4 linked regions of the Homo sapiens genome follow. The protein of the gene in region 4 purifies or fractionates together with the protein of the main gene of each other region. This does not show direct contact. Each region holds a gene or a part of one and is shown on either strand. Other genes may lie near its edges.

Evidence for each region. Proteins that work in one complex are often made in the same cells at the same time.
Region 1: the proteins of CHST8 (region 4) and RRP1 purify together in Homo sapiens (affinity purification with mass spectrometry; 3 studies listed by BioGRID and IntAct, with this or other methods). This does not show direct contact.
Region 2: the proteins of CHST8 (region 4) and TOR3A purify together in Homo sapiens (affinity purification with mass spectrometry; 3 studies listed by BioGRID and IntAct, with this or other methods). This does not show direct contact.
Region 3: the proteins of CHST8 (region 4) and TMED4 purify together in Homo sapiens (affinity purification with mass spectrometry; 4 studies listed by BioGRID and IntAct, with this or other methods). This does not show direct contact.

What each region holds. Positions count from the first base shown.
Region 1 is NC_000021.9:43,788,325-43,792,376, forward strand, and holds the start of RRP1 (ribosomal RNA processing protein 1 homolog A), read left to right. Parts: upstream 1-1,252; 5' UTR 1,253-1,305; coding exon 1,306-1,438; intron 1,439-3,025; coding exon 3,026-3,108; intron 3,109-4,052. UniProt on the Homo sapiens protein: Plays a critical role in the generation of 28S rRNA.
Region 2 is NC_000001.11:179,094,283-179,096,496, forward strand, and holds the end of TOR3A (torsin-3A precursor), read left to right. Parts: intron 1-685; coding exon 686-936; 3' UTR 937-1,714; downstream 1,715-2,214.
Region 3 is NC_000007.14:44,579,432-44,583,485, reverse strand, and holds the start of TMED4 (transmembrane emp24 domain-containing protein 4 isoform 1 precursor), read left to right. Parts: upstream 1-1,254; 5' UTR 1,255-1,279; coding exon 1,280-1,439; exon of another isoform or gene 1,440-1,662; coding exon 1,663-1,763; intron 1,764-1,911; coding exon 1,912-2,037; intron 2,038-2,246; coding exon 2,247-2,393; coding exon of another isoform or gene 2,394-2,420; exon of another isoform or gene 2,421-3,589; intron 3,590-3,857; coding exon 3,858-4,007; 3' UTR 4,008-4,054. UniProt on the Homo sapiens protein: Involved in vesicular protein trafficking, mainly in the early secretory pathway. targeting. Involved in the maintenance of the Golgi apparatus. Appears to play a role in the biosynthesis of secreted cargo including processing.
Region 4 is NC_000019.10:33,628,453-33,631,952, forward strand, and holds part of CHST8 (carbohydrate sulfotransferase 8), read left to right. Parts: intron 1-3,500. UniProt on the Homo sapiens protein: Catalyzes the transfer of sulfate to position 4 of non-reducing N-acetylgalactosamine (GalNAc) residues in both N-glycans and O-glycans.

The DNA of each region.
Region 1 (4,052 bases), on a different chromosome or scaffold from region 4:
TGTCACCCAGGCTGGGGTGCAGTGGCGCGATCTCGGCTCACTGCAAGCTCCGCCTCCGGGGTTCACGCCATTCTCCTGCCTCAGCCTCCTGAGTAGCTGGGACTACAGGCGCCCGCCACCACGCTCAGCTAATTTTTTGTGTTTTTAGTAGAGACGGGGTTTCACCGTGTTAGCCAGGATGGTCTCGATCTCCTGACCTCATGATCCGCCCGCCTCGGCCTCCCAAAGTGCTGGGATTACAGGCGTGAGCCACCGCGCCCGGCCAACGCCACAACTGTTAACAGTGTGCCATAGTTGCTTATCTGCATACACATATGTGCGTGTAATGATTTACTTTTTTGCAGAATGAATTACAGACATCATGACAGGTCACCTTTACCAAAGAGTTCTGCAGTTATTTCTAAAAATAAAGAATATTTTTCTACTTCAGGGTATGTCAAACTGTGGCCCTAGGCCAAATGCAGCCTCCCCGTTTTTTTTTTTGTTGTTGTTTTTTGAGACAGAGTCTCACTCTGTCGCCCAGGCTGGAGTGCAGCGGCGCAATCTCGACTCACTGCAACCTCCGCCTCCCGGATTCAAGCAATTCTCCTGCCTCAGCCTCCTGAGTAGCTGGGATTACAAGCGCCCGCCACTACGCCTGGCTAATTTTTGTATTTTTAGTAGAGACAGGGTTTCACCATGTTGGTCAGGCTGGTCTCAAACTCCTGACCTCGTGATCCACCCGCCTCAGCCTCCCAAAGTGCTGGAATTACAGGCGTGAGCCACCGCGCCCGGCACACCCCTGGTTTTAAAAATAAAGTTTCGAGCCGAGAGTGGTGGCGCCCGTGGTCCCAGCTCCTCGGGAGGCTGAGGCTGGGGGATCCCTGGAGCCCGCGAGGCAAAGGCTGCAGTGAGCCGAGATCGCGCCTTGCACTCCAGCGTGGGTAACAGAGCGAGACCCTGTCTCAGGAAAAAAATACAAGTGGGGTTATAAATAAAATGAGATTAAAAAACAACAGATCTTTGCCTCAGAATCCCGACCCACCGCAGCCCCAGCGAGGCGCAGGCGCAGGCGCAGGCGCGCGCTCGCTGGTTCCGCCCATGCGCACAGGCAGGGAGCGCGCGCCCCCTCTGTAGCCTTCGGCCTCCGGGGGCTGCAGTTGCGCGGCTCGGCCACTGCGCGGCGGTGGCGTGCGCCTGGGCGGTGTCGCGGGCTGTGACGTCACGCCACGCGCCGGGGCCAGGAGGAGGCGGGCGCAGGAGGCGCGTGCTCAGTGTGCTGGGTACCAGGCGACTCCGGGACAGGGGGTCTCGGCCGTCGGCGTCATGGTTTCGCGCGTGCAGCTCCCGCCTGAGATCCAGCTGGCTCAGCGCCTGGCGGGGAATGAGCAGGTGACCCGGGACCGGGCGGTGAGGAAGCTCCGGAAATACATCGTCGCCAGGACTCAGCGGGCCGCAGGTTGGCGGGGGTGTGGGCGGCTGGCGTCTCGGGGGCCGGCTGGGCTGGTGCGGGTGTGGGCGGCGGCGGCCGGAGCTGGGGGCCCTCCGAGCCCTGTGGAACCTCCACGTGGCCGGGCCGGGCAGGCGGGGTCCACTGGCCTGTTCCCGCTGTTACCGGCCCACGGCCCCCGCCGCCGCTTTCCCTCGTGGTGCGGTGACTCTGGTCCCTCTGCGAGAACGCTCCTCCCCAGCCCCGTAACCCCTTTCCTAGCTCAGGCGTCCCCTCCCTCCAGTAGACCATGTACTCCTGCTGCCCTGCTGTTTGGGCACCCAGTATTTTTCCCTCATGGCAGCATTTCCCACTGTTTGCAGTTTTCTGTTTTGCGTTAATTATTGGATTGTTTTCCGATTTCCACTCGAGAGTACCTCTCTGAGGGCCGAGAATCTACTTCTTGTTCATGGTACCAGGTGGTTCTCCGAGCGTGGTCCCCCATCAGCAGTAGCATCCCCTGGACATTTGTTAGAAATACACGTTCTATGCCGGGCGCAGTGGCCCAAGCCTGTAATCCCAGCTACTTGGCACGTCGATGTGGGAGGATCACAAAGGCCCAGGAGTCCAGCCTGGGCAACATAGCAAGACTCCATTTCCATCGCAAAAGAAAAGAAAGAAATGCAAGTTCTAGGATCCCAGCCCTACTAAATCAGGACTGGCATCTGCTTTATGAAGCTGTTCAAGTGCTTCTGCTCCCCACACTCAGCCTGAGAACCACTGCTGCAGGAACAGGTTGCCAGACACATAGGACTTCAGTGAATGTCAACTGAGTAATGTTTTAAATTAAAATTTTTTGTTATTTTTCTGAGTGAGACAGACCTCACTGTCATCCGTGGTGGAGGAGTGCATTGGCACGATTACAGCTCACTGCAGCCTCTACCTCCCAGGCTCAAGTGAGCCTCCCATCTCAGCCTCCCCAATAGCTGGGACTACTGGCACCGTGCGGCCAGGCCAGCTAAGTTTTGTATTTTTTGTACAAATTGGGGTCTTCCTATGTTGCCCAGACTGGTCTTGAACTCCTGGCCTCAAGTGATCCTGCCTCAGCACTCAATTCCAAAGTGCTGGGAGTACAGGCGTGAGCCACCGCACCTGGCCTCAGTAATTTCTGTTTCTCTCGTAGTCTGAATGCCTGAGTTCACTTTCTTCTTTTAGTATTTGAGATATATTACAGGAGAGTGCAGAAGCCCTCAGTATAATGCTGGATGAATTATCACCAACAGATTAACCTTGTGGCCACTGTCCAGCTTAGGAAACCGTCAAGGTTCGCAATTTTGAATTTCCAAAATGGAGTATGGTGCCTGATACCTTGTAGATCTCAGTCGGTTTTACTGTGTGCGTGAAGTAGCAGTTACCTGGAGTAGCCGCATAGCCACAGGCGCGGCAGGTTCTGGGTTAGAAGGATTGTTTGAAGGGGAGGGCCAGATTCTGCCCCCCAGTTGCCTTTACCGTAAGTGGGACTTTGGTCTCATTCAGGCAGTCACGTTTCTGTGGCTTCCTTTCTGGCACTCGAAGGTGTGGGATTCATTTGGTCCAACCGTTGCTGTTTTGATGCAGGTGGTTTTACGCACGACGAGCTGCTGAAGGTGTGGAAAGGACTGTTTTATTGCATGTGGATGCAGGACAAGCCACTCCTCCAGGTGAGTGGGGGGAGCAGCAGAGCAGGTACAGAAGCAGCGGGGGAGGATGGATGGGCATCTGGTCAACCCAGTTTTTCTTTTTTTTTTAAGTCGGAGTTTCGCTCTTGTTGCCCAGGCTGGAGTGCAGTGGCTCAATCTCGGCTTACTGCAACCTCAGCCTTCTGGTTTCAAGCAATTTTCCTGCCTCAGCCTCCCAAGTAGCTGGGAGTACAGGTACCTGCCACCATGCCTGGCTAATTTTTTGTATTTTTAGTAGAGACAGAGTTTCATCATGTTGGTCAGGCTGGTCTCGAACTCCTGAGCTCAAGTGATCCTCCCATCTCGGCCTCCCAAAGTGCTGGGATTACAGGCATGAGCCACCGCGCCCGGCCTGGTCAACCCAGTTTTAATATGGCCAGAGACCGTGGGGAGGTCGTATAGCCTTGACGCTTGGTTCGGCACGGCTGGTGGGCCTGGGCCTTTGTTAGGTGAGTCTTACACTTGCTGAGGTGTTGATGTGATTGACTGAGCCGTGCACTGCAGCAGCACTGGCATGGGTGAAAACTGGGTTTTGTGTTTGTCCTGGGTTGCAAACAAGTGCTGAAATAGTGGAAACCACGGGGCGGAATTCAAGTCTCCTGAGACAAGGACGTCTCCTGCTAGCCTTTTCCAAACATTGTTTCTCAAATTGTGAATTTTGTGCTCTCCTTCAAAATCTCCTGGGTGGTGAGGGTACTTAGTTAAGTTCAGGTTCCTGGGCCATATTCCATGCCCACTGAATTATCAAGGGGAGGCTGTGAAATGTCCCTTAGCAAGTATTCTGGGCGATGGCTGGCACGGTGATGTAGGCAGATAGCCAGTGATCTATGGGGTCTCGCAGCCCTCTTCCTCCTGATGGTTAGGGGGCTGTGAGTCCCAAGGCTCCCTTCCGCTCTCCCACGTCCCTCTTTAACCGTGACTCTGTG
Region 2 (2,214 bases), on a different chromosome or scaffold from region 4:
GAATGTGTGTTTATGAAGCAGACAGGGTACTTGGGAACACAGAGGGCAGACTATAATCATCTCACATTGTCAACCCTGGGTGGGCACAAGAAAAGTGGTAAGAAAGCCTGAGCTCCTTTTCTGGGAATGCTTGGAAATAGTAGTTTGCACTGGCCCCAAGAACAGGCGCAGTGGTCTCTGAAGCCTGAGACTCTGAGTCTCACTGCAAGACTTTACCTAAAGGAGACACAGCTGTAGAGTTCTTGACATACGCTGCAGACAGCACTCCTGGAGTTGAGAGATGAGATCCAACCTCACCCAGCCCCTTCAGTCGGGGCCAGGTGTGGTGGCTCACACCTGTAATCCCAACACTTTGGGAGGCTGAGGCGGGCGGATCACTTGAGTCCAGGAGATCTAGACCAGTCTGGCCAACATAGTGAAACCCCGTCTCTAGAAAAAAAACAAAAATTAGCCAGGTGTGGTGCTGTACGCCTGTGGTCCCAGTTACTCACAGGCTGAGATGGGAGGATCCCTTGAACCTAGGAGGTGGAGGCTGCAAGGAGCCCAGATCTCACCACTGCACTCCAGCCTGGTTGACAGAGCAAGCCCCTGTTTCAAAGAAACCAACAGCAACCCCCACCCCCGCTAAATTCCAGCTAGGTTCAGTCCTAGGTCAGACTCCATGTAACTTTGGTCTTGCTTTCAGACAATGGCTTTGGCCACAGCCGTCTTGTGAAGGAAAACCTGATTGACTACTTCATCCCCTTCCTGCCTTTGGAGTACCGTCACGTGAGGCTGTGTGCACGGGATGCCTTCCTGAGCCAGGAGCTCCTGTATAAAGAAGAGACACTGGATGAAATAGCCCAGATGATGGTGTATGTCCCCAAGGAGGAACAACTCTTTTCTTCCCAGGGCTGCAAGTCTATTTCCCAGAGGATTAACTACTTCCTGTCATGAAGGCTAGAGGAAGACTTCCTGGAACTGCCTTTCTTCCACTAACAGGACCCTGGGACCTGTAGGAGCACCCCGTTTGGGACTGTGAGGTGTTTGAGGGTGTGGACTGGCATCCAGCAGCCACTAACAAACACACAACTGGTGTGTAAAAGGCAGGCCTTACATTAGAAGCCAAGCCAATCCTTTTTCTTTTTTTTGGAGGTCCCACCGAGATAGATAGGAACTTGGATTGCTGAATTCAAAAACAGAGCCCATTCTTAAGATCACTTGGTGCCTTAAAGACACGCATTCCAAAGTGGAATGTGGTTGAAGAAAGTGGGCCAGGTGGTTGAAGAAAGCCATGTGGGAGCTCAGCAAATCCCAAGGGCTTATTATGACACTCCAGATGGTCTCCTTAGCATCTCAGCTCTTCTGCAAGGAAGAGCTTGGGTGTTAGGCCTCAGAGGCTGTAGGGTCCTTGGGTTACAGAGCCGGGGAGAACGAAGTTCTGTGACCCAGGGGTGGAGAATACACTCTAGGTTTGCAGGCTGGTGGGCTTTCAAATTGGTACTTCCAGAGGAAAGCCAAGCTGCTTCTGTTGTGAGCGAATCAGCCAAGAGCCTGAGGCTGAAGGGAAAAGTACACAGAGGAAGATATTTTACAAACCAGGTCAGTGTAGGCCAAGACTTATGGTCTACAGATTTTGGCGGGGGAGGGGGGACCTTTTCAAAGACAATAGGGGGTCTTGACATGTTTGTTGTATGTAAAGATGATAAGATTAAAATTTTTGATTTTCCTAAAATCCTTGGCGTACTTTCTGTTTCTGAGACCTAGCAAAATTTCAAACAAACACTGGGTAATCCTGATAAGGCCTGGCAGAGACAGGGCAGATGCTGGCACACACGGAGCTGGCAGGGTATGTGACTGGTCTGCCTGTCTAGTCTGTTTGCTTTGGGACCACATCAGTGAAGCCAAGTCATGCCAACCTCCTACTGAAGAGACTCCCATAGCACATTGCTCTTATATATGAAAATGTTCACTCCTGTACTCTCAGCTATAAAAAGAAAAGCAGTCATTCTGAGGATTAAATGGCACCGTGTAGACATGTAGCACTGTGCCTAGACACAGTGTTCATTATGTGCCTTTCCCCTTTTCTTGGTTCTTCTCCCATGCCTCTGGAATAACACAGGTCTTTTTTCCCTATGTTTTTTATATATTAATTATACACACATATAGAGTCAGGGTGTCACTATGTTGCCCAGGCTGGTCTGGAACTCCTGGGCTCAAGCTATCTTCCTGCCT
Region 3 (4,054 bases), on a different chromosome or scaffold from region 4:
CTCAAGTTCTTTATGAAAGTTCATTGTAATTATTCTATTATATAAAAGTTTCGAAATTCTGTTGATAAAATGTATTTTTAGTAGAGACGGGGGTTTCACCTTGTTGGCCCAACTGGTCTCGAATTTCTAACCTCAGATGATCCACCAGCCTTGGCCGCCCAAAGTGTTAGCATTACAGGCGTGAGCCACCGCGCCCGCCTGGCCTTGATAAAAACAGTTTTAACCTTCCGTTGCTTCGATTCCATGCCCACTAAGTAACATTCCAGTTTGTTTTTCACTTTCAAAAGGATGTGCTGTAACTAGGGGATGTAAACAAGCTCCATGACCCTACTTATTCCAAGTTTTCGTTCCACTCTCCCACCTTTTTTTTAAGACAAGGTATCACCCTCGGTCGCCCAGGCTGGAGCGCGATCACTGCTTAATGCATCCTCGACCTCCTGGGTTCAAGCGATTCTCCTGCCTCAGCCTCCCAAGTAGCTGGGACTACATGCGCACACCACCACACCGGTTAATTTTTTGTAGAGACGGGGGTTTCACCATGTTGCCCAGGCTGGTCCCGAACTCCTGGGCTCAAGGGATCCGCCCGCCTCAGCCTCCCAGAGTGCTGGGATTACAGGTGCCAGCCACCGCGCCCGGCCCCAGCTTCTTAAAAGAATGATCCGAAACTATGGCAGCACTGGGCTTTTGGTCCCCACCCAAGAAATGCCCGCTCGCAGAGGCTCGCCGCGGCAGGCTCTCCCGACGTGACAGAGTGTGGGTCTGGATTCAGCCTCGGTTCTTACGAGTCAGATAGGTGGACACGCAAAGCAAAACATCACAGGGCTTTTTGTATTTAGCACAGAAAACACTTGTGAGCCCGAGCTGAGAACCCAAAAGGCACGCTTCAGGCCATCGTAGCCACCAAGCCTGGTCAGATTCCGTCCACCGTCTCCTTGGTGCTCCGAGACCCAAATCGCTGACTGGGGCCGAGGGCGGGCGTGACTGCGCAGGCGTGCCTCCCCTGCGAGATGCCGGAGGTAAGCTGCGGGGTAAGGGGCGAGAAATTAAGGGCGAACGTCATTGCGCATGCGCCCTCTACTCTCGTTGCGGGGGTAGGCGGGCGCCGGGCTGTGTGAGGGGGCGGGGCGCGGCAGTGTTCGGTACGGATGGAGTTGCAGGAGACGGCGAGTACATATCACTGCGCAGGCGTCCTCTTCCCCTAACTCTCAGGGTCGCTAGGGTGGCGCGCAGGCGCAGAGCGATGCGCAAATGTGCGCAGGCGCTTAGGGGCTGAGGCGCGATGGCAGGTGTCGGGGCTGGGCCTCTGCGGGCGATGGGGCGGCAGGCCCTGCTGCTTCTCGCGCTGTGCGCCACAGGCGCCCAGGGGCTCTACTTCCACATCGGCGAGACCGAGAAGCGCTGTTTCATCGAGGAAATCCCCGACGAGACCATGGTCATCGGTCAGGCGGGCTGAGGGTGGGGAGGCCCTTTGTACCCAGCTCAGCCCTCGGCGGCGCTCCCTCCTCCCGAGCCCAGCCGGGTCGCTGGCTCCCCCAGTACCTAGCCTGAGGGTGCCCCGAGGACGCCAGGCCCCCTGCCTAGAGCTCCGGGCCGCACGTCGGAGGGGGCCGGGCGGAGAGGCGGCCCACTAGGGCCGGTCGTGACTATGTGTCTGCCCCGCAGGCAACTATCGTACCCAGATGTGGGATAAGCAGAAGGAGGTCTTCCTGCCCTCGACCCCTGGCCTGGGCATGCACGTGGAAGTGAAGGACCCCGACGGCAAGGTAAGGCTGGCGTTGGCCCACGCAGCCGTTCTTCAGTGGAGCTCCCGTGGGGTGTAAAGCACTGCCTGGAGGAGGCCTCAAGGGACAGGAACTTGCACTTGGAGAGCCTGCGGTATAAAGGTGGGGCCTTCACTCACATATGTTGCAGGTGGTGCTGTCCCGGCAGTACGGCTCGGAGGGCCGCTTCACGTTCACCTCCCACACGCCCGGTGACCATCAAATCTGTCTGCACTCCAATTCTACCAGGATGGCTCTCTTCGCTGGTGGCAAACTGGTAAGAGGATTTTCTCTTTGGCTTCAGCTTAGAATCTCTCACTTGTTTCCAAATTTTGATTTATCAAGATTGTGAAACTTTGTAGCACAGTCAGAATTGGGGAGACAGATGTTGCCTTCTGCTCCACAGCCAGGGACAATAGTGGGTTCCATACCCTGGAACAGACAACTGGAGGCCCCACCACTCATACATTCCATGTTTCCTTGTAGCGGGTGCATCTCGACATCCAGGTTGGGGAGCATGCCAACAACTACCCTGAGATTGCTGCAAAAGATAAGCTGACGGAGCTACAGCTCCGCGCCCGCCAGTTGCTTGATCAGGTGGAACAGATTCAGAAGGAGCAGGATTACCAAAGGGCAAGTGCATATCTCCTTGTAATTTGAGAGGGCAGTTGACCTTTATACCCACTATACCTACTCAAGTTTCTGCTTGGGAGATCAGCTCTGCAGAGAATGGAATGAGAAGTATTGGTTTAGATAGGTTGTTTGTTTGTTGTTTTTGAGACGGAGTTTCACTCTTGTTGCCCATGCTGGAGTGCAATGCCATGATCTTGGCTCACTGCAACCTCCGCCTCCCCAGGTTCAAGCGATTCTCCTGCCTCAGCCTCCTGAGTAGCTGGGATTACAGGCATGCGCCACCATGCCTGGCTAATTTTGTACTTTTAGTAGAGACGGGGGTTTCTCCACGTTGGTCAGGCTGGTCTCGAACTCCCGACATCAAGTGATCCGCCCGCCTCAGCCTCCCAAAGTGCTGGGATTACAGGTGTGAGCTACCGCGCCCTGCCTGTTTTGCTTTTTTATCAAAACATTTTATTGTGGTAAAATATAACACCAAATGTGTCATTTTAACTGTCTATATAGTTCAGTGGTATTAAGTGCCTTCATAATGTTGTGCTACCAACACCATCATCCAGCTCCAGAACTTTTTCATCTTCTCAAACTAAAAATCTGTACTTATTTTGTTTTGTTTTTGAGATGGAGTCTCGCTCTGTTGCCCAGGCTGGAGCGCAGTGGCGCCATCTCGGCTCACTGCACCCTCCGCCTCCCAGGTTCAAGCGATTCTCCTGCCTCAGCCTCCCAAGTAGCTGGGATTACAGGCAAGTGCCACCATGCGTGGCTCATTTTTGTGTTTTTAGTAGAGACTGGGTTTCACCATGTTGGCCAGGCTGGTCTTGAACTCCTGGCCTCAGGCAATCCACTGCCGCAGCCTCCCAAAGTGTTGGGATTACAGGCGTGAGCCACTGCACCCAGCAAATCTGTACTTATTATAAACAATAACTTCCCGTTTCCTTTTGTCCTGACACCCACCATTCTACTTTCTGTCTCTATGATCCTGACTACCCTATCTCATATAAGTGGAATCATTCAGTATTTGTCCTTTTGTGACTGGCTTATTTCACTGAGTATAATGTTCTCACAGTTCATCCATGTTATAGCATGTGTCAGAATTTCTTAAGGCTAATATTCCATTGTATGCATGTGCCACATTTCGCTTTCAGTAGTCATTTTTAAGCTCTATAAAATAAAATGAAGAAAGGACAGTTCACAATCTAGTAATAGCCATTGCCTACCTGTTTTTCTTGGACTCTTGTTGGAAATGGTAGGATCATGATTTCAGTCCTAACAGAGATGCTTGTGGAGGGACAGCCTGTCCCTTTCTTGGGGCAGCCTCAGTGGGGAGACCATAGCACTCCTAATGGAGTCACAGATAGTATTCCAAAAGGAGTTTGGTCCTGGAGTTGAGTAATTACACGCAGGGAGGGACCTCACAACAGCCAGACTGTTTCTCCTGCTCACTTAACCCTGTGTTGCCCCACACAGTATCGTGAAGAGCGCTTCCGACTGACGAGCGAGAGCACCAACCAGAGGGTCCTATGGTGGTCCATTGCTCAGACTGTCATCCTCATCCTCACTGGCATCTGGCAGATGCGTCACCTCAAGAGCTTCTTTGAGGCCAAGAAGCTGGTGTAGTGCCCTCTTTGTATGACCCTTCCTTTTTACCTCATTTATTTGGTACT
Region 4 (3,500 bases):
ATGGGCTTCCCCTCAGACATTGGTCTGGTCCATCAGGCTCTGTCTCCTGGAGCCGGGGTGGTTGAGCCTAATGTGCAATGGAGTCTGTCTACACTGGTTGAAACCAGTGTGTGATGTAGGCAGTGCATCTACGCTGGTTGAAACTAGTGGGCGGTGTAGGCGGTGCGTCTACGCTGGTTGAGCTAGTGCACAAAGCAGGCACTGTAACACTGGTTGAGCCCCTAGTTCATGATGCAGGCCATCTGTTTATACTGGTGGATCTCAGCACACCATTCACGCCATCTGTCTACACTGGTCGAACCAGTGCATTCTGCAAGTCATTCTGTCTAAACTGGTACCTGGCTGGATTAGGTGTGGGAGGGGATGTGGTAAGGAGTGGTCAGGATGGTTACCCATGGGACGCTATTGGGAGTTGTCTACTCCCTGAGACAGGGCTGCCCCCTGGAGTGCTAAGCACCTGTCCACTCTGGCTGAGTCACATCCTCCTAGGACTGGGTGGCCAGGCTGCTGGTTGTGTGGCCCCACTGTGCTCTGAGCCCTTGGTTCTTCCACTGCCTTCCTCTCTTGTCTGCTCACCATTCAGCCCTAGCACGTCCAGGGCACTCGGCAAGTGACAGCCCAGTGCCCATAGCTCCATGGTGGGGACAAGCTGCTCGACGGCCAGACCCATGGTCCTGGCCCAACTTTTGCCTCCTGACTCATTGAGGATGGGCCTCCACTGGGGGAATGGAGCTGACCACCCACTGTGGCTCGGATGCCCACTTCCCTCCGGAGCTGAGTGCTGCCCAGTGGTGGTCTCCATGTGTGTTTCATCCACTTAGCTTCCTGGACCCCTAGAGTTCCTTCACCTGCCACCTGCCTGATGTAACCTGGCAGCTGGCTGGCACCTGCCCCAGAAAGAATCCTCTCTTATACCCTTTTCTTGCTCTCAGCCCTCTCTCCTTTTCCTCCTCCCCAAGGGAGCCAGTCTCTACCTGTTGCACCCTCTGGGAGGGGCTCTGCCCAAGGCTGGGAGCTCCGCAGTGCCCTCTGATGTTGGTGAATTTCCTGTGGCTGTCTGCAGCACAGGTCGGGCCCTGGGTTCCCTGCAGACATCGGCCCTATCTACCAGGCTCTGTCCTCCAGAGCTGGGGAGCAGGGAAGCAGGTCTGTGAGTCACCCCATTTCCCGTTGTGCCCATGCTGCTGGCTGCAGGCCCTGAGCTGAGTGGCCACCGAGCTGCAGGCAACAGCCCAGGTCGCTGTCACCTTGTCCTCACTGTCTGGGCCTGAGCCAGCTCCTCCCTGACTGGGCCAGACTCGGGGACAGGAGGGAAGAGAGCTAAGCAGAGGATGCTAGGAGCTGCACATTACTCCTTGGTCCCCTAGGCCCCCTCCCAGGGCTGATTCCTTGCCCAGAGGGCGGCCTCTCCAGATGAGCCTTCCTGGGCTGGCCTGGCCACTCCATTCTGTCTGTTGCCTTCACCACTGTGGACCCCTGGACATGCCCAGATGCTTATCAGTGGGAAGCTGACACAGGAGAGCCCCTCTGCCAGCAGCCCCTAGCCCGGGCACAGACTGACTCGCACTTGGCAGACAAGTCGTCCCCACCTTCGAGGCTGCCTTTTTGGGGGCTGACTCATCTCTTGGGACAAGACTCATCAGCCTAGGCTTGCAGCACTGAGACCCTCCTCCAGCCTTGAGCTGCAGGAGCTTTGCTTCCTGTGCCGCATCCAGGCACCCAGCAAACACTGACCCTGACCTGCCATATGCAGAGCCTCGTACACCTGGCCCTGGAGAAGTTGAGCAAACACAAGCAGGTTACAGTGTTGGTGCAGATGCTGCTCTTTCTGGTTGTGTTGGCCAGGAGGAGCTCGGCATGGAGAAGGTACTGAGCGATTGCTTGTGGGCAGGCAGAGTGCATTAAACTGTGCAGTCTGTCTACTTCAGCATAGCCGGTGCGTGGGGAAGGCAGTCTGTCTACACTGGCTGGGCCAGTGTGTGGTGCAGGCAGTCTGTCTACACTGGTGGGGCCAGTGCATGGGGCAGGCAGTCCGCCTACACTGACGGAGCCAGCACGTGGGTCAGGCAGTCTGTCCACACTGGTGGGGCCAGTGCGTGGGGAAGGCAGTCTGTCTACACTGGCTGGGCCAGTGTGTGGTGCAGGCAGTCTGTCTACACTGGTGGGGCCAGTGCATGGGGCAAGCAGTCCGTCTACGATGACGGAGCCAGCACGTGGGTCAGGCAGTCTGTCTACACTGGTGGGGCCAGTGCGTGGTACAGGCAGTCTGTCTAACTGACGGAGCCAGTGCATGGGTCAGGCAGTCTATCTACACTGGCTAAGACAGAGTGTGGGGCAGGCAGTCTGTCTACACTTGGTTGAGTCTAGGGCATGAGCACTAGAACATTCCATGTAGTCTGTGCTTGCCCCACTCTCTGTGGGGTCTTTGCACAAGGTTCAGAGCTCTCAAACTCTGTAGATTCAGTGGCTTTTCCTGTGGCTGAGCTCAGCCTGGGTCCGGGCTTCCCCTCAGATGTTGGCCACGTCCATCAGGCTCTGTCTCCCAGAGCTGGGGTGGTCAAGCCCAGTGTGCAATGCAGTCTGTCTACACTAGTTGGAATCAGTATGTGATATAGGCAGGCTGTCTACACTGATTGAGCCAGTGCAAAAAGCCGGCGCTGTCTATGCTGGTTGGGCTCAGCATGTGATTCAGCAATCTGCCCACACAGGTTGAGCTGGGGCAGCCAGCCTCTCTCTGGCTTGCTGAGGCCAGAGCTCTTGGTTCTTTCTGACACCTTCCCTTTTTCCTATGTGATTCTTTCTCCCGGGAATATTCCTCCTTACACCTCCTATAGACATCTGGGTCTGATTTGATTCTGACTTCCAAAGACTCAGCTTTCGTGTGTCTGTTTGAATCTCCTTGGCAGAGGCTGACATGGGCTGGGAGTGGCACTGGGATCGCACGTGGATTTCCCCTCCCTGTTGCTGTGCCTGGGGCTGGGCCTGTGCTGGTGCAGAGGCTACCTGCTGTCAGTGGTCATCACTACCTTGCCATCCCTCGCGACAGCCACTCACACGCCTCTTTCTCACAAAAGTCATTTAGCGAGGATTACCACCTTGGTGTGCGTGGTAAATTGCATTTCTCCTGGTTGGGGCCATCTTGCTGTTTCCTGCTTAGATTTGGGGCCTCATGAGGTTTGGCCTCATCTGCAAATTTAATTTCATGACCATTCATCCCTGTGAAAGCACAATCTATGCCTATTATTTCACTCTTCTTGATTCCCTCTTCCACGAGTTAATGTGTCAGCGCACAGCCATGGCAACCACTCCCCGCCCTCCCTCCACCCCAGGCAGCCACCTCTAGGTTGCGGCTGAAGCTGGGACCTGGAGTCAGACCACCTGGGTTCAATCCTAGCCTTACCACTCGGTCACTGTGTGGGCTAGGGACCCAGTTTCCTCATCCACAAAACGGGGTTAACAAGAGAATCCACCTCCTAGAGCTGTTGTGCCTAAGAGTCCAC